Homo sapiens: one gene and its partners. The protein of the gene in region 6 purifies or fractionates together with the protein of the main gene of each other region. This does not show direct contact. Each region holds a gene or a part of one and is shown on either strand. Other genes may lie near its edges.

Region 1 (4,075 bases), on a different chromosome or scaffold from region 6:
TAAAAATTTTTAAAACAAATTCACCTAATGTTTGATTTTGTCCCCAGAAGATAACAGCTCCTAATTCACTCTTGGCATAATTTTTGGGAAGATATGTCAGAAGGACATCCATTTGAGAATCTCCATCATAATCCCCAGGGACTACACTTGTTATCAATGCACTGTGATTCCTAAAAGAAACAAGCATTTACAAATATCAGACAAGTTGTAATGGAAAAGGACAATTCTGTATTTCTACCACACAAAAATATTTTCAATGAAAAACTTAAAACTTAACAGAACTGACTGATTGCCTTCTCTTTCCTATCTTTTCATCCATCATGTATTTAGACCTCTTTGGTCTAAAAAAGAGTTCAGAATGAATGCAGAATAGTCTCAAGAAACAAGACAAATCTGAAATATGTCGAGAGAAAACGTGTTTATTATGTTCAAGCAATGGCTAGTATAGCCCTTCTATATAGTTCCTTTGTCAAGGACACCAAGACATTCGGATGGTGTTTCTAACAAATGGAGGCTCATAATTGCCAAAGCAGTAAGCATTATCACTGGGATGTTTTCAATTAAAAGATATTATTTATAAAATATTTAGTTTGGATTTTAACATAAATTCAAAATTTACAGTAAAAATTAAAAGAATCATTTTATTTCTGAAAGCTAGTAAATTAAGAATGGAATTTTTTTTAACGAAACTTGGCAATCAATATAGCATCCAAACATATATATCTAACTTTATATGTATATTTTTATTTTTTCCTTTTCATAGGTATTGATATATTTTTATTAACAAAATAATTCTAAAATTATTTATATGAATCTTGAAAGCTTAACGTCCTGCAGTCTTATTATCTGAGCGACCCAAGCAAAAATTAGGCCTTTAATTCATTTTATACTTAATTCTACTCAGATGAAATAGCAAGACAGCAAATTTCCAATTAGACTATAGATAATTACTTTCTTAATGCATCAGTGGTAGTTCTTTCTCCCTCTCACTCAGCAAGGTAAGAACCAAGTGGTGTATTTCTGGAAAGTCTCAGGAATTAAGGATTTAAATTACAGTAATGGGTAAGGTTTTGGCCTTAAGCTAGACACAGGAGTTAACCAAAAGTCTACAAAAGGAACAATTTAACCCTTGCCCACAGCTCTACCCTATTTCTAGAATGTTAGTCTGTCAAGAACATACATGCAGGGCAAAAGATAGTAGACTAGTCCCACTAGGCAATACATTTCCAATTATTTCTTTTGCACCTTACTTGAAAATGTGAGTAGACACCTGCCTTCTGAAGAAAACTTTGACTATTAAAGAGAGCTAAAACAAATAGCAATAAGGAACCTGAAGAAAACAGAACTAATGCAACAAAAGAAAACTTCAAAATTACACTTAAGAGAAAAAAGTCTGTCTATAAAAAAAAAAACAAACCAACAACAGTATGCTAAAAGACAACATCAGTAAGAAAACAAAAGAAAAACCTCGGAAATTAAAAATGTGACACCTGGCTGGGCGCGGTGGTTCACGCCTGTAATCCCAGCACTTTGGGAGGTGGAGGTGGAGGTGGGTGGATCACTTGAGGTCAGGAATTTGAGACCAGCCTGGCCAACATTGCAAAACCCTGTCACTATTAAAAATACAAAAAGTAGCCAGGCGTGGTGGCGTGCATCTCTAATCCCAGCTACTTGGGAGGTTGAGGCAGGAGAATCGCTTGAACCCAGGAGGTGGAGATTGCAGTGAGCCAAGATTGGACCATTGCACTCTATCTAGCCTGGGCAACAGAGCAAGACTCCATCCCCCACCAAAAAAAAAAAAAAAAAAAAAAGGACTTAGAATTTAAAAGAGAAAGTTGAGAAAACCTCCTGCAAAGGAAAATAAAACAAAACTAAATGATAAAAATAAGAAACAGATAAGATAAAGGAATAAAGGATGAACCCAGGCAGACTAATCAACTGATAGAAACTCCTAAAAGAGACAAAAAAATTTTTCAAAGAAATATTTAATAATGTAAGAGTATTTCAAAAAGCTCCCAAGGATAGAGGCCTCTAGCTTGAAAGGGCCCACATAATGCCTAGCATAATAAGTAAAGAATAATCATTCCTGTAATTGCAGCACTTTGGGAGGCGAAGGTGGGAGGACAGCTTGAGCCCAGGATTAGGTGCCTACAGTGAGCTATGACTGTGTGACTGCACTCCTTTTTCACCTGGGTGATAGAGAAAGACCCTGTCTTTATCAAAAAAGAAAAACAAATCTATACCAAGGCACATCATCATGAAATCAGAACAAAATAGAAAAAGAAGAGACTCCAATAGCTTCCAAAATTAAAACAATTTACATTTAAAAGATTAGGAGAAAGAAGAGGGTTGAATTTTAAAACTGCAACCCATGAAGCTAGAACACAATAAGCTAACCAAACTTTTAAGAGTGGGTAGATGCCGGGCGCGGTGGCTCATGCCTACAATCCTAGCACTTTGGGAGGCCAAGGCAGGTGGATTGCCTGAGCTCAGGAGTTTTGACACCAGCCCGGGCAACACGGTGAAACCCTGTCTCTACTAAAATACTACAAAATTCGCTGGGCGTGGCGTTGTGCACCTGTAGTCCCAGCTACTCAGGAGGCTGAGGCAGGAGAATTGCTAGAACCAGGGAGGTGGAGGTTCCAGTGAGCTGAGCTTGTGCCACTGCACTCCAGCCTGGGAAACAGAGTGAGACTCTGTCTCTAAAAAAAAAAAAAAAAAAAAGTGGGTAGAAAAACTTTTTGGATGTGACAGGACTTATCAGGCATCCTTTCTCAGGAATTTCTGGAAAGACACACCCCCGTGAAGTAAATGAGGAAATTTCTTTTTTTACATGGGGAAATTCCCCACATAGTAAGTCTACAAAAGGCCTGGAGAATGAATCCAGACTGGATAGGAATGTAGAGGATCCAATGGGAAAAACAAAAATGCAGGATAGGTATATGGCAGATATGATGGAATATCTGCAAAGAAATTAAGGGTATGTACATAGAAAACTATGCAATCTATTTTTTAAAAAGCAATCATTTATTCCAGTAGGGCAAGCTGCACAAAAAATGAAATACTGTCCCAGCACTTTGGGAGGCCGAGGCAGGTGGATCACCTGAGGTCGGGAGCTCGAGACCAGCCTGGCCAACATGGTGAAATCCCATCTCTACTAAAAATACAAAAAATTAGCTAGGCATGGTGGCAGGCACCTGTAATCCCAGCTACTTGGGAGACTGAGGTGGGAGAATAGCTTGAACCCGGGAGGCAAAGGTTGCAGTGAGCTGAGATGATGCCAAGGCACTCCAGCCTGGGCAACAGAGTGAGACTCTGTCTCAAGAAAAAAAAAAAAAGAAAAAGAAAAGAAATACTGTACATTACTTGGTTCTGAAGTACATAGACACCACATGGTTAAAAGGTAAACAATGATTACTAATTTAACAAAAAATTATGATTTAATTACACTGGGACAATGTAGATAAATTATGTTAGTTAAAAAACAAGAATTGAATATTTAAAAATGATAATTCAAGAAAATTAGTGTAAAATTTTATTTTAAAATATGGTAATAAACACTAGAAGAATCAGCTACAGGTTTTAAAAGTGGTTGCATCTGAGAGAGAAACAGGGGTGTGGGGGAGAATAAGGGTGAAGAATAGTTATTTTTACTTTGAAAAATATTTTAAATTATAACACAAACAAGAGTTTCTAAATTTTGAAAGTGCATTGCATTAATAAAAAAATTAATTGGGATATTTGTTTTAACTTATCAGAACACATGCCATTTACATCTTTTAAATTTCCTTAATTTCTAATAAAAAAAAAATCACCTCTATGCAGTTAGTTCACTTCTCATATACACTCAACTTCAGTTTCTTCCCCACTCCAAGCATGCTGACATTCACTACCCAAAAACACTTCTCAAGGGAAATAAGTTCCTGTTTATCCATTTATAACTTTCCCCTCAAAGTTCTAGTTCAAGGCCATTTTTCTTTTTAACATGAGTTTGAGTTTACTCAAAATACTGTAGAGTCTGAGAACTAATCAGCCCACACAGGGACTTTTTAAATACAGCTTCCTAAGTAGTCTT
Region 2 (4,075 bases), on a different chromosome or scaffold from region 6:
TTTTTAGTAGAGATGGGATTTCACCGTGTTAGCCAGGATGGTCTCAATCTCCTGACCTCGTGATCCGCCTGCCTCGGCCTCCCACAGTGCTGGGATTACAGGCATAAGCCACCACACCTGGCCTTCACTTAGCACTGTTTAGAGAAACAAATGTTCATCAATAGGGAACTGGCTACCCAATCATATTTCTATACAGTAGAATATACTGCAGCTTTAACAAAAAAATAATGAGGGCTGTTTCTGCAGCACAGAAAAAGATCTCCAAAATACATCACTAAGTGAAAACAGCAAAGTACAGAACATTTTTTAGTATGCGACCATTTGTATAAAAAAGGGGAAAATCTATCACCTACCCCAAAAGTTAAGTTAAAGACATGCTTATAAATCTAATCACCAAATCCATAGACACATTAAAAATACTCAAATCAGATACCACCAACTTTGCCAAATGAATAGTTAAGAAATTTATTTAGTTCTAAATCTAGCTACATTTTTTTAATCCTCATCACTTCTTATCCTCCTACCAAGTTCCAAAACAAAATTTATTTGCTAACATTTTTTAAAAGTCAGACACTTACTTGCTACCATTAAACATTTTATTCAGGGCATCTCTTGATATAATATGACCACAGACCAATTTCATGGGTGGATTGTTATCTGTTGTTTGCTGACGAAGAATGGGGCAGGCAAATATAGAGTGATACCAGCACTTTTTACCAAGGTCCACTTCAATCTGTTAAAAAAAAAAAAAAAAGTAAAAAAGCTGAAGTCATATTTCACAAAACCATCCACATGGTAATATACACTGTGCAGCAAAGAACATTGATCAGATCTATTCACCTGAATGTAACTTTCTATAGCACTCTTCTAACTCAGATGGACAGTCTTAGTGATTCAAAGTGTTAAATTAGCCTTCAAGATTATTTTCAAGAAAGCTGACAAAGTGTAAAAACAAGTCTGACAAACAATGACCTGATCACCACCTCTAATGGCTTTACTGGCTTGACACACAGTCTTTAGGTGAATTCAGATTTCAGTCTGCTCTTAGTGCATGTCAGAGATGCTTACAACATAAATGGGAAACTGCCAGATGCCAGGCACCTGCCTCCACAAAACAAGTGAAGGCTCAAGTTCTTTTCACTTGTTCAAGTTAGCGGCAGTAGAGCAGGAGTGCTACTTGTGTCCTGACCACACTCAGGACCAGGACTGCACCTGTGCCTTTAATCAGAAAAGATCTTTGAGGAGAAGCTGGGGCAACCAACTGACAGGGTTACCTGCTGGAAGAACAAGGTAACTGCAAATAAACCCGTGTACAGGTGTGGTATAAAACGGGCAAAAAAACAAATGCGTATGTTAGCTTTTCAGGGTCTGTGACACAATCATGACAGGAACGACAATTCCAGGCCAGAGCCTCAGTGCCTGTCAGAGACCTGGTGGAAACATACATACAATGACCTTCGCCACTTCACATCATAACTGCACCATGGCAGCCACAATTTGAGTGCCTACCATGTATCCCGTCTTATTCTAAGCATGCTTATGTTATCTCTAGCCTTCAGCAGCCCCATAAAGAGAAAGCTGGTGCTTGTCTTAGAGATGAATACACTACTGCTTAGAGAAGTTCTAGAGTTGGCAAGTGATCGTGCTGATGTTTAAAACCATGGTCCTTTCCATGAGAGCAGTAGAAATACAGTACTAGAGACCCACTGATGACTGCAGGTGTTACGACCTTTAAGAGCTCTATACTTATTCTATTGGCAAATGTAACCAGCACAAACTCGTGATCTTATCGACAGCAATAGTTAAGACAAAAGTAAAACCAATTAAATTTGCGTTTATATTAGAAAAACAATCACAGGAGTGGTCTGTGAACTGCACTGCAGAACACACTGCCTGCTACTGTATGTACAGCCCTCCCCACTTCTGATGTTTCCCTTCACCAGCTTTCAAAGGCACTTCAAGTCAAAATTATAATACTCCTCCTCCAGGGTCCCCAAAATGTACTAGGCTCTTCATTTGTATTGTTTAATCTTTTATATATCCATAAAAGAACTCCTGTCAAATGGCTACAATGTTTCCTGGTTAAAAGGTAAGATGAACATTTAAAGATGCCATATTCTTCTAATGGCAGTAAAAGTAAATAGCCAATAGAAAATGGAACTCACAGGTAATTCATCTTTCTGGTTCCAAACTCCAGTACACTGCCTCTGTTCAATCACGGCTTTGATGTTAATTAAAGCTGGCAGCGCCACACAACCTGCTGAGAAACTGGGAGAGCAGAAGAGGAAACGTCAGTGCCAGGCCAGGGGTCAGGCCGCTTGGTCCAAGGAGACATCAATTTCTCCAGACTCTATGTGCTGCAGACCCTGGCCACTGGACAGGGTGAGAGCTTTCTGTTCTGCTAAAAGTAAATCCAGCCATTTCCACTAGAAGAGAAATAACTTGTTTTCCCTCCCCTTCTTCCCCAGGCCCACTGGTATATTTCCTGAAGTTACTGAAAACCAATCCCAGTTAAAAAACAAAACAAAAAATAAAACTCTAAATTTTCTAAATAAACCTCACCAATATGGGGGTAAATGCAGTTAAAGAACGCAAACGTTAAAAAAAAAAAACTCATCTGCTAGGGTAATTTAACTTTAGCTTACTTCCTCAGAAAATAGAAAAATAAAGTTTTAAAACATGCATTTTAAAAAAGAAAGCAGCTTTGGAGAACCAATTAATTCAAATGAAGAGCAGGAATTAAGAACTACTACACTCTTCCAAATACAGTAGTTTTAGCATCTGAGTTTGAAGGAAAAAGAGATGTTCTTGCACAAAATTCTTCACTCAGCAATATACAAGACATAACTTCCTTTCCTATTCCCTTCCTTACAGACCATATACCACCAGACTTATTTTTCTTACAAAATGTGCTCCAAGGTATACGCTAATTAGAACAATGATACTCAAAATGTGGTCTGCAGATGGTGCTGATTTACACACCATTTTCAATCCACAGGAAAGAAGTACAGAATTGAGAATAAGGTTTTTAGAGAATTTAATAACAGCAGATGGTGGTGGCTCACTCCTGTAATTGCAGCACTTTGGGAGGCCAAGGTGGGAGGATTACCTAAGTTTGAGAGTTTGAGACCAGCCTGGGAAACACAGTGAGACCCCCGTCTCTACAAAAGATATAAAAATTAGCCATTAGCCAGGTATGGTAGCATGTGCCTAGAGTCCCAGCTACTGAGCAGGCTGAGGTGGGAGGATGCCAGGAGGTTGAGGCTGCAGTGAGCCACGATCGTGCCACTGCACTCCAACCTGGGCAACAGAATGAGACCCTGTTTCAAAAAGTAAAATATAAAGAATTTCATAATAATCTTACATTAGTGCCAAAAAAGGTTTTATATTGCACAAAACAACTGGATTTAATGGGCTCAGCTTATCAGTCAAATGACATGCTTGCTCCTGAAACATTTTTTTTGCATAGTTCCTCTTATCCCCAGATCACCCCTGTCCAGGGTGGAAGCACTCATTTCTCAGATCTGGAAGTGTTGGCAGCCAACTCTCAGCTGTGTCCGTCTCTTCAGGACTGTCCTCAGTTGAAGAGAGTCATCTGACCAGAGTCACATCCAGCAATTGCTCCATGTGAGGGTACAAAACCCCAGCCCTATAGGCCCAATTTGGGACAACTCCACGGGCCCACAGCAGCTCCAGAGCTCCTCACGGATGGGAGACACCTTGTTGCCACTCTAATACAGTCCAACTTTCCTCTCTGCCCAATCCTGCTGTTTTCATTCTCCCACAGGTGCTGATGTCAGTAAACTTTCTGCATGTACATTCCCACTTTAGAGTCTTCCTCAGAGAACTTGATGGCATCAGCGCCTCACATTATAGCTAATTGCATCTGTCCACTCCTACGCTAGGATGGAGCACCCTGTGGAATGCACCTTATTCATCTTCATATCCAACACAGTGCCCACAGTGCCTGGCACATAGCAGGTATGCAAAACATTTGTGGAATTAAATGAATAGAAGAGCTAAAAAAGAGTTATTTTCTTACAACAGTTTCTTAAAATGTTTTGGTTTCAGGACC
Region 3 (4,075 bases), on a different chromosome or scaffold from region 6:
GCAAGATTCCGAGAAAGAGTGAAGAGGATCTCCTATGGGTGAAGGCGGAGGAGCCTTCCCCAGGCGGGCGTGGCCCTGACCTAGGCAGCCGGACCGCTGTGTCGTCCCTTTACCCTATGGAGTTGCTGATGCCTAGAAAGCCAAAGCAGACAGATGCCTTCTGAGGCCACCTAGCTGGGACCGTTTATAAAAAGGAAACTGTGGCCCAGCCAGGCACAGGGACTTGTCCAAGGTCACACCGTGTTCTGTAGAGACCTGGGCTTCTTGCAAGTGCTCTCAGGCCCCAGACAAGAAGCAGCAGAGGCCTGTGTTGGCCCCTGGTTTTCCCCAGGTGTTTGACTGTGGGTGGAAAGTATGAGAGCCCTGGGCCCAGCCCTGCTCCTGACCAGCTGTGTGATCTTGGCCAAGTCACTTCCTCTCTCTGCCCTCAATCTTCTCATCTGTGGCCAGGCAGGCCTATCTCTGCCCTGTTTTATGCCACAGCTGCCAGAGAGCCCTGGACACTGTAGAGGGCTGTGCACGAAGGTGTGATTGGCATCAGGATCAGGAGCCGGAGCAGGTGAGCACCTTGCTGCTGCAACTGGCCAACTCTGAGATCAGAAAGGGAAAAAAGGAAAGAAATCTCTAGTTTGCAGATCGGAGGTCAGAAAAGCTGCCTGTGGCTTATGCTATGTGCAGAGCCTGAAACACTGGCCCATCCGCCTGCTGTCCCACTGCCCTCCTCTGCCTTCCCCCTGCCCAGCCACAGGTATGGGTCAGGAAACCCATTAATGCATTAATTAACCTAAAGATCACCTGATGGGGGCAGATTTCTGGGCCCTACCTTGATGAATCAGGAGGTCCCAGGGGCTACATTTCCACAGGTACCCCTGGGTTTTCACCCATTTCACTCCGCACCCTGGGGAGCTGAGGTGCTTAAGAGTGGGCTTGGTGGAGCACATAGGCGCTCAGAGCTGGGGGTGGCCTAGACACCATGCTGTTCTGCCTGTACCTGTCACACGTGGGGAAACTGAGGTCTCCAGCCTAGTGGGTGACTGAATGAGACTGAAACTCATTTCCTCTCCCCACCAGTCCCCTACCAACCCCTAGCCCCTGGCTTCACCCTGCACAGCTAAATCAGGCCCTCCTGAGGACCGATGAACCCTCAAATCCAAAACAAGGCCATCTTCTCAGCAGACAGCTGGGAGCCATGCTCCAAGGGCACTCTCCAAGACCCCATCTCTACAAAAAATTTAAAAATTAGCAGGGTGTGGTGGCATACTCCTGTCGTCCCAGCTATGCAGGAGGCTGAGGTGGGAGGATCGCTTGAGTCCGGGAGGTCAAGGCTGCAGTGAGCCGTGATTGTGCCACTGCACTCCAGCCTGGATGACAGAGCGAGACCCTGTCTCAAAAAAAAAAAAAAACCGTTTAAAAAATGGGTTATGCTATGGAAAACTCCTGGGACCTCCTGCTGGGCAGTGTGGCTTCGGCTTCACCCCGGTCTTCACTTGACAGTCTGGATGGAGGCGGCGGGAGGCAGGGGGAAGCGGGAGTGACGGTAAAAGCCTTAGAAGTGTCATTCACAGTCTAGGAAATCTCTGCAGGGTCAGAGAGTTCCAGATATGTGGCCAGAGACCACGGCTGGCAGGACCAGGAGGGCAAGTGACCAGGCCCGAGCAGGGGCCACAGCTCAGGTTCCTAAAGAAACAGAGGTCCCTGGGTATGGGGGAGAGTGTGTTGGTCTGAGGGTCAGGAGAGCTGGGTCCCAGGCCGGCTCATCACTGGCGAGTGACCTTGGAAAAGCTGTGTAAGCCCTCTGGTCCCAAGCTCTCCCCTTGTGAGAGGGGTCAGTGATCCTGCCCCCCAGTGTCCTTGGTGAGGGCAGCTTCTCCTGCCCACTGCCCCTTGGGGTGAAGGGTCAGAAACACTGCAAGTCTCAGGAAGTAGCAAGGAGAGCAACTGCAGGGACAGCCCGTTGTGTTTGTTTTCTGTGGCTGCCATAACAAATGACCACAGGCTAGGTGGCTTCAAACAACAGACGTGTATTGTCTCCCACTTCTGGAAGCCAGAAGTCTAGAGTCAGGAGCCAGCAGGGTTGGCTTTTCCTGGAGAGGCTGAGGAAGAGCCTGTCCCTTGTCTCCCTAGCTACGGGCAGTGGCCAGCAACCCTTGCTCTTCCTCACCTTGTGGCTGCGTCACACCCATCTCTGCTTTCATCTTCACCTCACTCCTTCCTGTGTGTCTCTCGGTGTCCTCTCCTCTGCTTCTAAAGACATTGGTCATTGGATTTAGGGCCCAACCTAGACCCAAGATGATTTCATCTCAAAATCCTTAGCTAATTCCATCTGCAAAGATCCTATTTCCAAACAAGGTCACATTCTGAGGTTCCAGGTGGGCATGAACTTTGGATAGGACACCGTTCAACCCACTGCAGTCACTAAGATTTATGAGGTGTTTATTGCTCATAAGACCTGCACACAGTCTTATCTCTTCTTCACCATCACCCATTTTCCGGATTACAGAAACCAGGGCCCAGAGACATTAAGAATGTGCCCAAGTCAGGCCAGGCGCAGTGGCTCATACCTGTAATCCAAGCACTTTGGGACGCCAAGACAGGTGGATCACCTGAGGTCAGGAGTTCGAGACCAGCCTGGCCAACATGGCAAAACCCCGTTTCTACTAAAAATACAAAAAAAGTTAGCCGGGCCTGGTGGTGCATGCCTGTAATCCAGCTACTCAGGAGGCTGAGACAGGAGAATCATTTGATCCTGGGAGGTGGAGGTTGCAGTGAGCCAAGATGGAACCATTGCACTCTAGCCTGGGTGACAGAGTGAGACTCTATCTCAAAAAAAAAAAAAAAAAAAAAAGAATGTGCCCAAGTCACACAGCAAGTGAGGGGCAGAGCTGGGATTTGAACCCAGGTCCCTGGTGCTCCTTCACCTTTCCACCTTTTTGTAGCTGGCTGGGGGATGCCCAGAGACCCCTTAGGGCCCACAGCTAGGAATCCATGGGGCAGGAATTCCAGCCAGCCCTATGAAGACCCCAGGTCTGCAGGGGCTCCTGGGCACCAGAGAGAGGCTGGAGACAGGCAGGGGAGCTTCAAGGTGTGAAGGGGCCCAGCCGTGGTCCCAGGAGACCAACATGTGGCAGAGGATTGAGAGCCACAGTTCCTTGTCTCTGCCACTGACTCTGTGAACGTCATTGTGCTCTTCCGGAGAATAGGGGCAGCAGCACTGACTTTATGGGGTAATTGCCAAGTACCGAAATGTTCATCATAATAGTACTAATCGCTAAAATGTGTCCGCAAGCACTTTACAAATGCTTTTTGTTTTCCCATGTAATGCGTGGGAGGGGAATTGCTTATTCAGTCATGTGCGTTCGGTTGTGTGTGGTTGAACCAGTGACTTCGCCTCAGTTTGCTCCTCCGTAAACCAAGGGTTAGCTGAGCACCCATCTTCCCGGTTGTCACGTGAGGCAAACAGGATCCAAGTACAGGGCTTGGCCCGGGTGTGGTCCAGGTAGAGGCTCAGCGGATGTTTTCTTGCCTGTAAGATGGGATAGTGGTAGTATTATGATGATGCTATTATTTGTTGTATGAGGATTTGGTGAAGTAATGCAAAGGAAGCACTTGGCTCAGGGCCTCGCCAGAAATTGATGGAAAGTGGCCTCCTTTGTGGCATCAGAAAGATTTGAGTATAAATCCTAATGCCAGTGTTTACTACTGTGTGACCTTGGGCAGGTAGCTTTGCTTCTCTGAGCTTGACATCCTGATATGCAAAGTGGAGTGGGAAAAACCTGCCTCACAAGATTGTGCCACGAGATGATGGGTAGGTAATGTCTCAAATGGAACCCTCATCATGCCAGGCATTCGAAATATGTTGAGCTTCTGCCCTGCTTGTGGGCATCTTAAAGATGTCCCCAGAAGGGGCACATCCTAGTCCAAGGAGGGTGGATTTGATTTGGGAAAATTGGGAGCAGTCGTGCCATAGTGGAGCATATGGGATTGGTGGAGCCTATGGGAGAAGCAGTGAATGGATGACACCGTTTGGGGTCCAAGCACCATGTAGCTTTGAAGGAAGAAAGCAGGTCTCTGCAAG
Region 4 (4,075 bases), on a different chromosome or scaffold from region 6:
AGAAATCATCAAAGCAAACATGCAAGAAAACGCTATGAAGGGGCTTCAGAAAAGAAATCATCAAAGCAAACCTGCAAGAAAATGCTATGAAGGGGCTTCAGAAAAGAAATCAAAGCAAACGTGCAAGAAAACGCTATGGAGGGGCATCAGAAAAGAAATAATCAAAGCAAACGTGCAAGAAGACACTATGAAGGGGTTTCAGAAAAGAAATCATCAACATGAACATGCAAGAAGACGCTATGAAGGGGCTTCAGAAAAGAAATCATCAAAGCGAACATGCAAGAAAACGCTATGAAGGGGCTTCAGAAAAGAAATCATCAAAGCAAACATGCAAGAGGCCGGGCACGGTGGCTCACGCCTGTAATCCCAGCACTCTGGGAGGCCAAGGTGGGCAGATCACGAGTTCAGGAGATCGAGACCATCCTGGCTAACACGGTGAAACCCTGTCTCTACTAAAAATACAAAAATTTAGCCGGGCGTGGTGGCAGGCGCCTGTAGTCCCAGCTACCCGGGAGGCCAAGGCAGGAGAATGGTGTGAACCCAGGAGGCGGAGCTTGCAGTGAGTGGAGATTGCGCCACTGCACTCCAGCCTGGGCGGCAGAGCGAGACTCCGTCTCAAAAAAACAAACAAAAGCACACATGCAAGAAAATGCTTTGAAGGGGCTTCAGAAAAGAATAATCAACATGCAAGAAAACGCTATGAAGGGGCTTCAGAAAAGAAATCATCAAAGCAAATGTGCAAGAAAACGCTATGAAGGGGCTTCAGAAAAGAAATCATCAAAGCAAACGTGCAAGAAAACGCTATGAAGGGGCTTTAAAAAAGATATCATCAAAGCAAACATGCAAGAAAACGCTATGAAGGGGTTTCAGAAACGAGAAACCGTTAAAGAAAAGATGCAAGGAAACAACACTGTGAGGGGTTTCAGAAAAGAGAAATCATCAAAGCAAACATGCAAGAAAATGCTATGAAGGGGTTTCAGAAACAAGAAATCATGAAAGAAAAGGTGCAAGAAAACAACGTTATGAGGGGTTTCAGAAAAGAGTAATCATCAAAGAAAACAGCGCATCTGTGAGGCCGGTGGTCCAGACGTGGGGCTGTGGGACCCAAGTGGTGAACTGTGGCCTCATCCTGGGCCGTTGGGTCCTGGGCTATGTGCAGGCGGAGGTGCCGTCCTTGGTCCCACTGGGGAAGGTCGGGAGTCATTGCTGCTGAGGACCACCTGAGCGCTTGCCCCAAGCCTTGCCGTGCCTGGTGGAGTCCCGTACCAGCTGCTGTCCTGCCCCTGCCAGAGACCATGGGTTCCACTGCTAGGCACTGAGCACCCACCCCCTGTGCCCGGCCACTAGCGGAGACTTGATGCTAAGCCTGGGTTACTCTGTTTTTTTTGTTGTTTTTTTTTTTTTTCTTTGCTTTCATATAAATCATTGGTTGTAACTACCGCGATATTAGCCATAATGTGTTTATGTATTATTTAGCATGTTATTATTTGCTTACTGTTGATTTTGAAATGAGGGGGCTGCCCAGGGAGGGCCTGTAGATGTGCTGGGGGGCTGTGGGGAGTGGAGACAGGGCCGCCTGGCATGTGGCCTGGCCCTGCCTGCATGTGTGTCTCAGCAGCTCCTCTCCATGGACAGGTGGGGCCAGCCTGGCTCCCTTGCCCGGCTATGGCTGCTGTCTACGTGAGCGTCCGACCTTTTGGTCCTTGGGGGCTGTTCTGTTCCTAGGATCTCAGAGCGGCCCTGAGTAGTCCACGAGTGCAGACCCACAGTGTGGACTGGAGATGCATCTCGAGTGGTGGCCGGTGCTGGGCCTGCCTCATGGAGGCTGGGGTGTGGGAGGGTGGCATGGGGGCCTTGAGCCAGCACATTCTGATCAGGTGCTGCTTCCTTCCTCTAAGGACCTAGTGAATATTGAGATGTTCCTGACGGCCAAAGAGGTGGAGGAGTCCCTGGAGAGGCGTGAGACGGCCACCTGCCTGGCCTGGTGCCATGACAACAAGTCCCGGCTCCGGAAGATGAAGGTGCACGGACTCCCAGGTTGGGGTGGGAGTGGGTCGGGGCCGAGGCTGCGCCACCTGCCCTGGAGCCAGCACCCCCTTGCCTGGTGGTTCACAGTAGTTTGGTTTTGGTTTGTAAGGTGGGGGTTGGGTTTGGGAGTTTTTTTGGTGGCTGTGTTACACTTTTAGGCTAAAATCTGGAAAAGTGCACCTCATTTGGCATTACAGTTTGTGTACAGCTGGCATGAGGCTCAGAAGGAGTGGGTTACAGGAGGCTGACCATGTGCACACAGAGTGTTGGGGCTGCTGGGCTTAGAGCCTGGAGACAGGTCAGTCCTGCTCCATGGGGGTACTCCATGGGCTCCCTGTGCTCAGTCATAGACACAGAAAAGCTGGTTGGGAAGTCATTCTCCATCTGCGAGGCTGCAGAGCTCTGGGCTGTGATATTGTTAATGAATACCCACTTTTTTTTTTTTTTTTTTTTTTTTTTTTTTGAGACGGAGTCTCGCTTTGTCGCCAGGGTGGAGTGCAGTGGCACGATCTTGGCTCACTTGCCTCCGGTGTTCAAGCGATTCTCTTGCCTTGGCCTCCTGAGTAGCTGGGATTATAGGCATGCGCCACCATGCCCGGCTAATTTTTGTATTTTTAGTAGACATGGGATTTCACCACGTTGGCCAGGATGGTCTTGATCTCCTGACCTTGTGATCCACCTGCCTCAACCTCCCAAAGTGCTGGGATTACAGGCGTGAGCCACCGTGCCCGGCCGAGTACCGACTTTTGTAGAGACCAAAAGAAGCTTAAGAAATGGACTCCTAAAGGACAAAATTTAAACCTGCTTATTAAAAGGCATTGTCACCCTAGGGGCTTGCAGAAATGTTTTAACTTATGTTAACACTTCTGCCTCCATTAGCAAAACTTTTCTGTCTTCTAAACTGAGCGCTGCTTTAACCTCACCCTGGCTGAGTTTGGCAGGGTGCACGCAGTTACCAGCCAGGAGTGACACACTGCCACTCAGGGCCGCCAAAACAAGCACGAAGCAAAGACGGGACGAAAAAGTAGAGCGGCTAGTAGCTCCCCTAAAGAGAGTTTGGACCTTGGTATGGAAACCCTAAAAGGAAAGCCAGAATTGGTATGTAACCTGCGGCCCCACTACACAGTGCCAGCCCCACACTCCCTCCCAGAGAGCCGGCACACACCTCACAGTGGGAACTCTGCCAGGGCTGTTTCCTGTGGATGTCAGAGGGAAGATAGGTTCTTGGTGCTGCCAGGATATTCCTGCAAGCCCTAATTACCTGCCGGACAGTGTTGCTGGAGGGTGTTGGAGGCTTGCCACGAGCACACGACCTGTCTGAAGCTGCTGTGGGGACAGGCAGGGCCAGGACTCGGGGCCCTGAATGCATGCCTGGGGGACGAGTGTGCCTGGTGTTGGATGAAGTTGAGATTGGATGCCTGGTGGATGAGCGTGCCTGGTGTTGGATAAGTTGAGATTGGGTGAGCATGCCTTGTGTTGGATGAGTTGAGATTGGATGAGCGTGCTTGGTGTTGGATGAAGTTGAGATTGGATGCCTGGTGGATCAGTGTGTCTGGTGTTGGATGGAGTTGAGATTGGATGCCTGGTGGATGAGTGTGCCTGGTATTGGATGAAGTTGAGATTGGATGCCTGGTGGATGAGTATGTCTGGTGTTGGATGAAGTTGAGATTGGATGCCTGGTCAATGAGTGTGCCTGGCGTTGGATGAGTTGAGATTGGATGCCTGGTGGATGAGCGTGTCTGGTGTTGGATGAGTTGAGATTGGATGCCTGGTGGATGAGTGTGTCTGGTGTTGGATGAAGTTGAGATTGGTTTGGATGAAGTTGAGATTGGATGCCTGGTGGACGAGTGTGTCTGGTGTTGGATGAAGTTGAGGTTGGATGCCTGGTGGATGAGTGTGTCTGGTGTTGGATGAAGTTGAGATTGGTGTTGGATGAAGTTGAGATTGGATGCCTGGTGGATGACCGTGCCTGGTGTTGGATAAAGTTGAGATTGGATGCTTGGTGGATGAGCGTGCCTGGTGTTGGATGAGTTGAGATTGGATGAGC
Region 5 (4,075 bases), on a different chromosome or scaffold from region 6:
CAAAACCACTATAGTACCATTCAAACCATGTCTGGAACTCTGCAATCACAACATTAATAAAATATATTGCTATATACATTACAAATAAACCAAAACCTAAAAAGTAAGGATCATGATTTTTATTCTAGGTAAATTTTATCTGTTTCATGCTTGTATTTCTTGACTTTAATTTCTTCAATCTCTTATCATTATTTTTACCACTAACCCCATAGCATATCAATGATAGTTCCATTTTTCTTGAAAGGGGATTCAAGCAAAAAAAAAAAAAATTATAGTTCCAGGAGGATTTTTTTTATGGAACAAAGTATTATAGTATCATTTCCCAAATTTCATTTAACTGAACACTTTATCTTCAGCTGATGTTAATGTTTTCGTTTATCTCAGGGAACAATAAAGAATGTTGCATTTTAAAAAGCTTACTTTCTGAATTACTACCAAACCCCAAAACAAGGACAAATTAGAAGGGGCCAAATGTCTCTAAAAGTATTTCTCATTGTTTATATTTCATCATATTAAAATCTAGAATGTTTTCTTCTGCCTTCCAGTTTTATCCAGTAAAATAAATCCAATACTGCTTACTTTCTTGTAGCCTTAATAATTCATGTGCAATGATAAGACAAAACTATCAAGATTCATAAACACTCATCAATAACTATATCACTATCATCTTAATGAAAATGAACTTCATTTTACCCAAATTCAAAAAGATACTAAGACATAAATCAGAATGCTCACTAGAAGATTAGAAAATGTGATGTAGACACTCACCTACATAATGCATATTAAGAGCCAAATACTTATACTGGAAAAGAGGGTTATTACTAAGGCTACTTCTTTGGATCTGCTGGAAAAAGGAGCTGACATCCCATCTGTACAGGACATCCAACAGCATGATGCTTGGCACCCTCAGGGCCACATTTAACACTGCCTCCAGTTTCTCCTTTGCAGCCATGTTGTTTTTTTTTTTCTTTTTTTTTTTCTTGGAGAAGACCTAAAATTCAGAAGACACAATATATAAAAATAAAAAGTCAACACAAATCGCTTTTAGATACCCTTTCACGAATCTAATAGGTTGTCACACACTGTACAAAACTATGTGAGAACGTATACTACTTCTCAGCCACAACTACTATTTTTAGATATTCATAAAATAACCTCTGTATTGTGTTTTCACATTGACCCATTCAGTTCTGTCCAATCTTATAATTCTGATTAAATGTTCTGGCCTCAAAACTAATTTTTTAAAAGGCCACTAACTCCAAATCTAGGAACAAAACACTCTGTAAGACTACTGTAACTTGTATAAAATTAACTTGAAAAATTCACTCACTCCAATAAAACTATGATTTATGTAGCTCATAAGAGGGTGAATTTTGAATATTTACTCTATGAAAAAGCCTAAGCAATTCAATAAAAACTTGATAACTGCACGTTTAGTTTGCAGCATCTTGTACTCTATGCTTTTCCTTATTCACTTACAATCAAAATTGAAGTGCTAAATTTACAATCCAGAGAACTCATGATGTAGATACAGGTAGAGGGAACATTATTTACAATATCATTTCCTTGAATCTTTAAAGTTAAATATGGTCTAAAATTCCCATAATCTGCCTTCAAGTGTTCATCAAATTCTTCCCTTGATACACAGATAAGCAGGCACATGGAAGACGCCAGGCATTGAGTCTGCAGCCCCTGTCTCTGCACAGACCATGATAAGTAGTGGGGGGGGGCAGGGGGAGGAGGAAATGAAAGGCAGTTATCAGGACAATTTACTATTTAAAGGGACAATTCAATGCCATACTGCTTTATATGGTAGAACTTCAAATTAATCCAAAAAAATATAAAATAGGGCAAACAAGGCCGGGCGCAGTGGCACACGCCTGTAATCCCAGCACTTTGGGAAGCCGAAGCAGGCAGATCATGAGGTCACGAGTTCGAGACCAGCCTAGCCAATATGGTGAAACTCCGTCTGTACTAAAAATACAAAAATTAGCCGGGCATGGTGGTGCACACCTGTAGTCCCAGCTACTCAGGAGGCTAGGGCAGAAGAATTGCTTGAACCTGGGATGCAGAGGTTGCAGTGAGCAGAGATCACAATACTGCACTCCAGCCTAGGCAACTGAGCTAGACTCCGTCTCAAAAAAAAAAAAAAAAAAAAAAAAGCAAACAAAAGTGGGTAAAGAACAATTTAAAGAGTAAAGATAATTCTGGATTGTTGGCTCTGACAATATCCTTTTAAGAATTTTGCTGAGAAAGCTAAACACATTTCCAGCTTTAGCAGTAATTTCAGACATTACAGGACAAACGAAAACATTTATTTCTGCAGAAAATTATAGTGACAGATTGCTATGCTATGGTTAAATATTTGTCAGTATTTCCATCTTACCCTCCAATTTTCATAGCTTCCTAGTTCAGATAGTCAAAAAGCTAAAGGCAACCCAACTTGGCACACTATCAATAAAAGCTTTTCAATAATCATATATCAACCATTCCCATAACCCAAATGTTTTATATATATAGCCTGCCAATAATATAGATTTAACATTTTTATAGATAAGTACTGCAATTCTGATTATTTCACATGAACAAGATCATTTTCATAATTTTCCTACATAAGAAAAAATATTATTGTGAAAATCAGAACTAAATATCATGTCCTAAGAAGGAAAAATGCACTGAAAAATAAAATCTCTAACCTTTAATATTTATTGCAAACCAACCACTGAGGAATCTAAATTTCTCAAAGCCCATGATATTATTATTTTTTCTAATCCCAGGAAAAAATACACCAAAACATTCACAGAAATTGTTGGTAAAGAGTTTAATGCATTTTAATGTGTATAAGCCATCTAGATAACTTCAGGAATTACAGTGGAAAGACTTACTTTGGTGAGCAAACTGATAACCCAATACCCTCTTGGGAATTTATTTCAAAGTAATATTGAATAGATCTTCTCACAAACCACCAGCCACCATATTTGAAAATCACCACGTACTGAGATGACAGTATTACTGACAGTCTTTATACTGCCATCGAAAAGTAACTATTTTTCTATATTCTGGAATCCAATATAAATCATTACTCTGTTTTTATAAGTAACAAGAGAGGGAGGAGCTATTACTGATTTAACACTTGTAGCCCATATTTATTTCATTTGATTTGGAACCTTTCTCTTTTTTCAATGCTTTGCTATTTTAAAATGTGCCCATTTTCACCATTTACTGTGGCTCCTAAACGGGTAAAGAAGAAAATTTAAACTAAACAAATAACTAATCCTGCTTTAGAAATCAAGATCTGCTAGGGAAGAAAAACTCCCTAATCCGTACAGAGGATCATCTCTATTACAAAAGTCCATTAGCAGAATGGTACATGTTCCCTCTTTATTTCCACCCACCACTCCTGCCTAACAAATATAATAAGAAACAGAAAACAGGACACATTTCTATTTCTATAAAGAGAAAATACCGGGTCCCGAAAGCTGTCAATAAAAAACAATATCCAAGATCCCCCTCTACTACATAGTCAACTCGAGACTGAAATGTTTTTAACAAGGACTTTGGATAGAATTAAATACGCCCAAATAAACGAAACTAAATGTTGCATTTATTTCTATACGTGAATGTTATTTTAGCAAGTCAGTGGCAAGCTGGTCATGTATAAAGGCACTGACGAAACAAATTTAATACATGGAAAATCAAAGAGAAAAAAATTTCAAAACCTTATCACTTTGAACCCTTCTAAAGTAAAAGAGCACATGATAGTTATCAATACAAATAGGTACTTTACACTACACTTTAGCACCACACACTAAACCAACATCAAAACAAAACTTTAAAATATTCATCTTCTTTGCAAGTACTTGCAATTACTCACACCTGCCAAATCACTATATCATACAAACACGAAGTAAAATGGAGCCTTCTCTCCTGATCTAGAGAATACCTTTATAATGTTGCCTAATTTATCCTGTTCCAGATTTATTGTCAAACAGGGCTAATCAGCATATCCTAAAGTACAGGGGAGCTCAATATTCTCTTGAAAACAAAATAATACCAAATAATCCTAGAAAATAAG
Region 6 (3,809 bases):
GCTTCTGCAAACAGAATGAAGAGACAACTCAGAAATGGGAGAAAATAGTTGCAAGCTGTATACCTGATAAAGGGTTAATATGCAAAAATATGTAAGGAACTAAAACAAAGCAACAGCAAGAAACCAAAAACTACTTGAAACATGGGCAAAGTAGCTGAACAGGCATTTCTCAAAAGAAGACATACAAATGGTCAGCAGCTATATGAAAAGGTGCTCAGACAAAAGCTTTGTCTATTGAGATGATAATTTTTCATTCCTTTTGTTAAAATACTGAATTACATTGATTGAGTTTTTGAAAATTAAGCTATCCTTGCTTTTCATAAACAAAATCAAAGGATAACAAAAAACCAGTGTGGTCATGATATACTGTCTATTTTATAGAGACATGAATCTTACTTGTTAATATTTGTTAAGGGATTTATATTTCTGTGAGAGATCTTCTATGACTTTCCCATTCTGTAGTTTCCTTTTCAGGTTTTGGTATCAACTTGTTCCTAGTCTGATCAAATGTATTTGTGTAAATATATACAAAATATTCTCAGGGAAAATTTATGCAAGTTTGTGTGTGTGTGTGTCTGTGTGTTTCATGAGTGCATAAGAGTTTGAAAAAACCACCAACAAACCTTGCTGAAGTGGCATTTACTTTGTGGGAACATTTTTGATTACAGGATCAATGCATTTTATATATGTTTATGTATGATGATTCAGTTTTTCTATTTATCCTTATGTTCATTAAGTAAACTGTAATTTTTCGTATTTCATCTATCTCATCTACATTTTCTGTTATGTCAGCATAGAATTGCTGACAGTTTTCTTTCACCTCTGTAAAGCTGTGTGTAGGGTCTGTAGTGCTGCCTCCTATTTTGTTCCTGTATGGAAATGGATGCCTGCTCTTTTTTCATTTTTATTTTTCTCATTGTGGCCAAGATTCATGTATCATTAATGTTTTCAAGAATAAACATTTTGACTTTATTAATTTTTCTCTATTTTTTGTTTGTCCTCATTAGAAGCTCCCATTTTCCCATGTCATTGGTTTGATGTGTAATATTTACATGATCATTCAATTTAAAACATTGTCTGACTTCTGTTTTGTTTTATCAGTTAACTCATTGTGAATTGAGAGGTCTGCTACTTTATTTTGATAATGCAGGGATATTATTTATCTTTGCAGAATCAGGTGACTCCCAACGTTCCCGGAATCTTCTAGTGGTCTGTGTCAGGGGTCTGGGCTGGCTGGGGTTCAGTGATGTCTACTGGAGGCAGCTTCCATGCCTTCTGGGGTCCTGAGTCTCCATGGCTTGTGGGGTCTGGGTCCCCCCTGGATTAGTGGATGGCCAGAGTGGCATAGACACTGGGCTCAGCTGGAGAGGCCCCTTCCTGGGATGGAGGAGGCTCAGTTGCCTTCTGTCTGAGGGTAAAGCTGTGCAGCCGGGCGTAGGTCACATCCTGGGGGGCTTCAGATGCAGCAGCCTGCAGCGGGGGAGAGTGAGAGGGAAGGAACGTGGTGGGGGTGGGGGAGGCCTGGGGGCCTGGAGAGGAAAGGACTCACCTCAGTGTCCATCTGTCTGTCCTCTTCTGCCTGTCTGTCCTTTGTGTCCAGGAATTCCCCAGACAGTGGGGAGGGAGGAGAGGCCATTTCTCTCCTAGGTCTGGAGTGTTTCACCTTGGCATACGTCACTGCCTGGGGGTCTTCATCGTGTGGGCTCTGCTGGAGAGAGACAGTGGTGGGGGGTGTCCTTGAATCCTCCTGACTCCCTGGAGTCAATTTTCCCCACTGTTCCCAGGGTGATCCGATTACATCCCTTTCCTGACGGAATCTCAGGGATGCCCTAAGGCCGTGGAGGGTCTGGCCGCTCCCTCCCTGTGGTTCTGGTCTCTGCTCCTCACTCTGACCTTGCCCATTTGGCTGCAGCCTCACGCGGCCTTCCTGCAAGAGCTCGCTGCTGCCTCGGGGCCTTTGCACGGCTGTTTCCTCTGCCTGCAGGGGCTCGTCCATTAGAGGATCACGTGGCCCTCTCCGTCCAGGCTTCTCAGATGACAGCTGAGCAGACAGCCCTCCCTTTCCATTCAGACTGGCCCCACTGCCCCACACTCTCTGCCCTTTACCTGGTTTATGTTCCTTACAGCACGTTGCACTCCTGGACACGATGCATTTATTTGCATTTTGTCTCCCACCACGAGGTGAGCTCAGGAGGCGGGGGCGGCTTTGCTCCCTGCTGTGTCTGCAGCTCCCATGGGGAGCCCCATCCACAGTGAGCTCCCTGGGAACACTCACTAGATGAATGAATGAAGGGGAGCCCAGGGGACTGGAGTGGTTCATTTATTCGTCATCCTCCTGAGGCCTGGGGAGCTCTCTAACAACCAGATGGCCAAACAGAGGATGAGGAGCAGGAAGGGGACCCGGGAGGAGGCCCATGAGGTCCCAGGACAGCAGGAGAGAGTGAGGTCCCAGCAGGCAGGAGGCAGCGTGCTGGACAAGGAGGGGTCCACCGTGACGATGCTGAGAGCCGGGGGAAGGAGGACAGAGAAGTCCTGCAGGATTAGATCTGGCACCAGGAGGCCTTTGGTGCCGGGGACAGGGGCGGGTTCTCACCCGAGTGTCCATTTCCACCCCGTCCTCAGGCTGTGTGTTCTTCACGGCAGCACCTGCTGGGGTAGAGCAAGGGGTTCATCTCCTGGGAAGGTTCCCTGGGACCTCTCATTCCTGCTGGTCCCTGCCCTGTTCCCATTAGTGCCACTGCAACGCAGGGAGGGGCTGTGATGTCCCCGAGGTCCCACAATGTGGGTTCAGACCACTTCTCCCTGAGTCCCTGACCAATCCTAGCCTGTGCTCCTGCCCCCATTGCTATTGAAATTTTGGGACCCCCAGCTCCACCCCAGGTGCACCTTCTCTGCCTCTCACTCACAGAAGTTTTCTCCCTGGACGTCAGCAGCTGGGCTGGACCTGGGGGAGGATACGGGAGTGTAAGGGGACAGTGAGGTGGCTGTTGGGATGGGTGGGAGTCTGAGGTCTTTGGGCAGAATTACCTCCTCTGTAGGCCCCCGTCCTTGGGCTCTGGCTCGGCAGCCCCTGGAGGACGTTGGAAATCAGCCTGTCTCTGGGCTGGGGGAAGATGGACAGAGTCTCAGCTCTGGGAACGTTAGAACCACCTGCCTTGCACATGCAAGTCAAGAGGAAAGGAAACCTGAAAATACACTTGCAAGGATGTTTTAAATACTTTCTAAGTTTAGAAAAACCGAAAGAATAAAGCACTTCCATTACTCCCTCATTCATTTTCTTCTTTCTAGATTTTCTCACTGGGAATTTCTGGAGCAGAGTTTCTAAGATGACCTCTCCTATCTGGAGTCCCTTTGGCTGGTGCCCTGAGCCCACCCTCCATCAGCCCACGGGTCCCCCAATTTCCTACTTACCCAATGTCCTGTGTTTTCCCTGACGCCAGTGTTGGAGGAGGAGGAAGAGGAGGAGGGAGAGAAGCAGGATGGAGACCACCAAGACCCCGATCAGTACCTCCCAGTGCCTTCTCAGACCTTGGGCGTGATGACATCAGGAATGGGGATGATGTCATTGATGTGCACACCTACTGTGTGTGCACCTACTGTGTGTGCTGGGTCTTTCTTTCATTACCTCCAACCCTCACAGCAGTTGTGCAACCTGAGATTGCCACCCTCTCTCCACCCATTTCACAGATGCACAAACTGAGGCTCAGAGAGGGGAATCGCCTGCCCCAGACCCCTCCAGCCAGGAAGCGGCAGAGCTGGGAAGGAAACCCGGGAGTCTGAGCTGCAGCCCTTGTTCCTGCACCAGAGCC
Region 7 (4,075 bases), on a different chromosome or scaffold from region 6:
TAGGAACACTTTTACACTGTTGGTGGGACTGTAAACTAGTTCAACCATTGTGGAAGTCAGTGTGGCGATTCCTCAGGGATCTAGAACTAGAAATACCATTTGACCCAGCCATCCCATTACTGGGTATATACCCAAAGGATTATAAATCATGCTGCTCTAAAGACACATGCACACATATATTTATTGTGGCATTATTCACAATAGCAAAGACTTGGAACCAACCCAAATGTCCAACAATGATAGACTGGATTAAGAAAATGTGGCACATATACACCATGGAATACTATGCAGCCATAAAAAATGGTGAGTTCATGTCCTTTGTAGGGACATGGATGAAATTGGAAACCATCATTCTCAGTAAACTCTCACAAGAACAAAAAACCAAACACCGCATATTCTCACTCATAGGTGGGAATTGAACAATGAGAACACATGGACACAGGAAGGGGAACATCACACTCTGGGGACTGTTGTGGGGTGGGGGGAGGGGGGAGGGATAGCATTGGGAGATATACCTAATGCTAGATAACGAGTTAGTGGGTGCAGCGCACCAGCATGGCACATGTATACATATGTAACAAACCTGCACATTGTGCACATGTACCCTAAAACTTAAAGTATAATAATAATTAAAAAAAAGAGTTATTATCAAATCACAATGTACATAAAACTCACTTAGACATGACTGTTTAAAACACTGATTCCTGGACCCCACCCTCTGGGATTGAGTAGATAGTGAGGGCCAGGAATCTGCATTTTGAAGACCTTCCAAAGGATTCTGACACAGGTGTTCAATGGAGTGTACTTGAAAAAATACACTGCCCTAAATAAATTCTTAATAAAGCTCAAATCTCACAAGCTTTTCAAATTCCTTATTTATCTTCAATATTCCTTTACACAAGTATCTAATTTCCTCTTTATCTCTAAACTTGAAAAAAAAAAACCTGTGTGCACTTAGTAACTCCACATCCCAAATACCCAGTTACTACCTAATCCCTCACAATTTGGTTTACATCTCATCACTATTCAAACTTACTCCCTGAGGATCTCCAAGAAATAGCTGATCAATCCAATAGGTGTGTGTGTATATATATGTGTATATATATATATGTATATAGATATATGCGTGTATATATGTGTATATATATATGTATATAGATATATGCATGTATATATACGTATATATATATGTATGTATAGATAGATATATGTATGTGTCACATTACAATGTTTTGGTCCACAATGGACCCACATATGACAGTGGTCCCATAAGATTACAATGGAGCTAAAAAATTCCAGTCCCCAAGTGGTATCATAGTAACACATTACTCACATGTTTGTGGCAATGTTGGTGTAAACCAACCGATTGCACACTGCCAGTCATATAAAAGTATAGCATGTACAATTATGTATACTGTATACTACTTAGTAATAATAATCAATGACTATGTTGCTGGTTTATGTATTTACTATACCATATTTTTAGTCTTAAAGTATATTCCTTCTGCTTATATGTTTTAAAAGTTAACTGTAAAACCACCTCAGGCAGGTCCTTCAGGAGGTCTTCCAGAAGAAGGCATTATTATTATACAAGATGACAGCTCCATGGGTATTACTGTCCCTGAAGACCTTCCAGTGGGACAAGATATGGAGGTGGGAGACAGTGATACTTATGATCCTGACCCTCTGTAGGCCTAGGGTAATGTGTATGTTTGTGTCTTTGTTTTAAGCAAAAAAGTTTAAAACTTAAAAAAAAATTAAATACAAAAAAAGCTTAATAGAAAAAGGATATAAAGAAACCAAATATATTTGTACAGCTATACAATGAGTTTGTGTTTTAAGCTCTTTACTACAAAAGAGTCAAAAAGTTTTTTAAAATTTAAGTATATAAAGTTAAAAAGTTACGATAGGCTGGGCATGGTGGTTCACGCCTGTAATCCCACCCAGTACTTTGGGAGGCCAAGGCAGGTGATCACCTGAGAACCTGGAGTTCGAGACCAGCCTGGCCAACATGGTGAAACACCGTATCTACTAAAAATAAAAAAATTAGTCTGGTGTGGTGGCATGCGCCTGTAATCCAGCTACTCAGGGGCCTGAGGTAGGAGAATTGCTTGAACCCAGGAGGCAGAGGTTGCAGTGAGCTGAGATCATACCACTGCACTCCAGCCCAGATGACAGAGGAAGACTCTGTCGCAAAAAATAAAAAAAAAAAAGTTACAATAAGCTAAGCTTAATTTATTATTGAAAAATAAAAAATGTTTAAAGAAATTTAGCATAGCCTAAATGTGCAGTGTTTATAAAGTCTACAGTAGTGTACAGTAATGTTCTAGGCCTTCATATTCAGTTACTGACTTACCTAGAGTAACTTCTAGTCCTGCAAGTTCAGTTCATGGTAAGTGCCCTATACAGGCGTGCCATTTTTCATCTTGTATACTATATTTTTACAGTACCTCTTCTATGTTTAGATACACAAATCCTTACCATTATAACTGCCTAGAGTATTCTGTAAAGTAACATGCTATACAGGTTCGTAACCTAGGTACGTAGTAGGCTATATGATCTAGGATTCTGCAAGTACATACCATGATGGTTTCATAACCATGAAATCCCCTAATCACCTTTGTTCTCAGAACATATCCCCACTGTGAATTGATGCATGACTGTGTATAATACTTGGAGCCATAAACAAGACAGATAAGTCTTGTTTACATGAAGCTTGTCTTTTAGTGAGATAAACATGCAACCAATACAAAAACAACAACAAAGTGGTCAAAAGGGCACTGATGAAACTGATACGGATTTGGAGGTACATGCTACTTTACACTGGTTGGCTAAGAAAGGTGTCATTAAAGATGTAACATTAAAATGAGATCTGAATAAGAAAAATGCAGATACAGAAGTATCACAGGGAGGGAGTTCTGGCCACAGAGAACAGTTATGAGTGCAAAGGTCTGGAGGTGGGAACATATCTAGATATTTACGGAATACACATATCAGAATGTCTGGAGCAAGCTGCCCAAGGAAACATGGCAGGAGATGAGGTTGAGAAGGCAAGCAGGGCCTACATTTTAGAGATTAAGGTAAGGAATCAGGATTAATTCTAAGTACAAAGGGAGGCAAGCAGTCAGGGGGCTTTGCACAGGAGAAGGATGAGATCCAATTATCCTTTGAGGTCATTCTCGGTACATTGTGGAAAACAGATTGTAGCAGGACAGGTGGGCCAGTTAGGAATCTCCTGAGGTATCCAGGTGAGAACATGGTGTGGGAGGAAGAAAAGTATACATTTCCATCTTTTTTGAAATTCTTCTTTCTGTGGTTTCCATAATCTTCAGCTCTCCTGGTTCTCTTAACTCAGCCCATATTATAATACTGGTACTACATTAATATTTGTGAACCACACAACATCTACAAGGAGTTCTTTACTTGCATTACTTATTTTAAATTTTCACATCAATTCTGTGATCCTTACAGTGTTATCATTTAGATTTTGTACATGAGGAATTCATATTGAAAAAAATATTAATTAACTTGCCATAGGATGCAGAACTAAGAAGAGGCAGGACAAGAGTTTGAAGTCACTTTACCTGACATCAAATCGTTTCTCTTGCTACTCTATCACACTGCTGCCTTCTATGTTTCTGGTTCCTTTTTCCTCTCCCTTCACCACCCTCCGTCAGCTACTGTGGGTACACCCCTAAACTTCCCTTCCAGCCACTGAAGGTTCATTCCATTTCTCCTAATCCTCTGTTTCCAGATGTTTGCAACATCCTTCCAGGGAATGTCTTATTCACAGCTAAAAGTCAATGTTCCCAAAATTAAATTCCTTTTTCCTCCAAGCATCCTCCTCCTTTGGGCTGCATTTATATTATTAGTATCACCATCTTCAAAGCCTCAATTTCATGTTTAACTTGATTTTTCTATCATAATACCAATATTAAGTTAGCTGTCAAGTCCCAATGGCTCCATCATTTTAGCATCATTTAGCATCCAGCATTATGTTACTACGTCCAATCTTAGACCTCATTCACTCTCATCTGGACGAGGGGAATGACGTGCAGCTCATCTTCTCCTTGTA

Evidence for each region.
Region 1: the proteins of LILRB4 (region 6) and ITFG1 purify together in Homo sapiens (affinity purification with mass spectrometry; one large-scale study listed by BioGRID and IntAct). This does not show direct contact.
Region 2: the proteins of LILRB4 (region 6) and RMND5A purify together in Homo sapiens (affinity purification with mass spectrometry; one large-scale study listed by BioGRID and IntAct). This does not show direct contact.
Region 3: the proteins of LILRB4 (region 6) and ATP2B2 purify together in Homo sapiens (affinity purification with mass spectrometry; 2 studies listed by BioGRID and IntAct, with this or other methods). This does not show direct contact.
Region 4: the proteins of LILRB4 (region 6) and MAEA purify together in Homo sapiens (affinity purification with mass spectrometry; one large-scale study listed by BioGRID and IntAct). This does not show direct contact.
Region 5: the proteins of LILRB4 (region 6) and RNF145 purify together in Homo sapiens (affinity purification with mass spectrometry; one large-scale study listed by BioGRID and IntAct). This does not show direct contact.
Region 7: the proteins of LILRB4 (region 6) and C10orf88 purify together in Homo sapiens (affinity purification with mass spectrometry; 2 studies listed by BioGRID and IntAct, with this or other methods). This does not show direct contact.

What each region holds. Positions count from the first base shown.
Region 1 is NC_000016.10:47,453,989-47,458,063, forward strand, and holds part of ITFG1 (T-cell immunomodulatory protein isoform 1 precursor), read right to left. Parts: intron 171-4,075; coding exon 25-170; intron 1-24. UniProt on the Homo sapiens protein: Modulator of T-cell function. Has a protective effect in graft versus host disease model.
Region 2 is NC_000002.12:86,768,216-86,772,290, reverse strand, and holds part of RMND5A (E3 ubiquitin-protein transferase RMND5A), read right to left. Parts: intron 2,269-4,075; coding exon 2,166-2,268; intron 734-2,165; coding exon 579-733; intron 1-578.
Region 3 is NC_000003.12:10,498,702-10,502,776, reverse strand, and holds part of ATP2B2 (plasma membrane calcium-transporting ATPase 2), read left to right. Parts: intron 1-4,075. UniProt on the Homo sapiens protein: ATP-driven Ca(2+) ion pump involved in the maintenance of basal intracellular Ca(2+) levels in specialized cells of cerebellar circuit and vestibular and cochlear systems.
Region 4 is NC_000004.12:1,320,483-1,324,557, forward strand, and holds part of MAEA (E3 ubiquitin-protein transferase MAEA), read left to right. Parts: intron 1-1,898; coding exon 1,899-2,021; intron 2,022-4,075.
Region 5 is NC_000005.10:159,202,666-159,206,740, forward strand, and holds part of RNF145 (RING finger protein 145), read right to left. Parts: intron 992-4,075; coding exon of another isoform or gene 953-991; coding exon 769-952; intron 1-768. UniProt on the Homo sapiens protein: E3 ubiquitin ligase that catalyzes the direct transfer of ubiquitin from E2 ubiquitin-conjugating enzyme to a specific substrate.
Region 6 is NC_000019.10:54,665,534-54,669,342, reverse strand, and holds the end of LILRB4 (leukocyte immunoglobulin-like receptor subfamily B member 4 isoform 1 precursor), read right to left. Parts: intron 3,529-3,809; coding exon 3,412-3,528; intron 3,104-3,411; coding exon 3,028-3,103; intron 2,945-3,027; coding exon 2,907-2,944; coding exon of another isoform or gene 2,899-2,906; exon of another isoform or gene 2,887-2,898; intron 2,650-2,886; coding exon of another isoform or gene 2,647-2,649; coding exon 2,594-2,646; intron 1,709-2,593; coding exon 1,550-1,708; intron 1,471-1,549; coding exon 1,324-1,470; 3' UTR 625-1,323; downstream 1-624. UniProt on the Homo sapiens protein: Inhibitory receptor involved in the down-regulation of the immune response and the development of immune tolerance. Receptor for FN1. Receptor for apolipoprotein APOE. Receptor for ALCAM/CD166.
Region 7 is NC_000010.11:122,943,902-122,947,976, forward strand, and holds part of C10orf88 (ATPase PAAT), read right to left. Parts: intron 1-4,075. UniProt on the Homo sapiens protein: ATPase that regulates mitochondrial ABC transporters ABCB7, ABCB8/MITOSUR and ABCB10. Regulates mitochondrial ferric concentration and heme biosynthesis and plays a role in the maintenance of mitochondrial homeostasis and cell survival.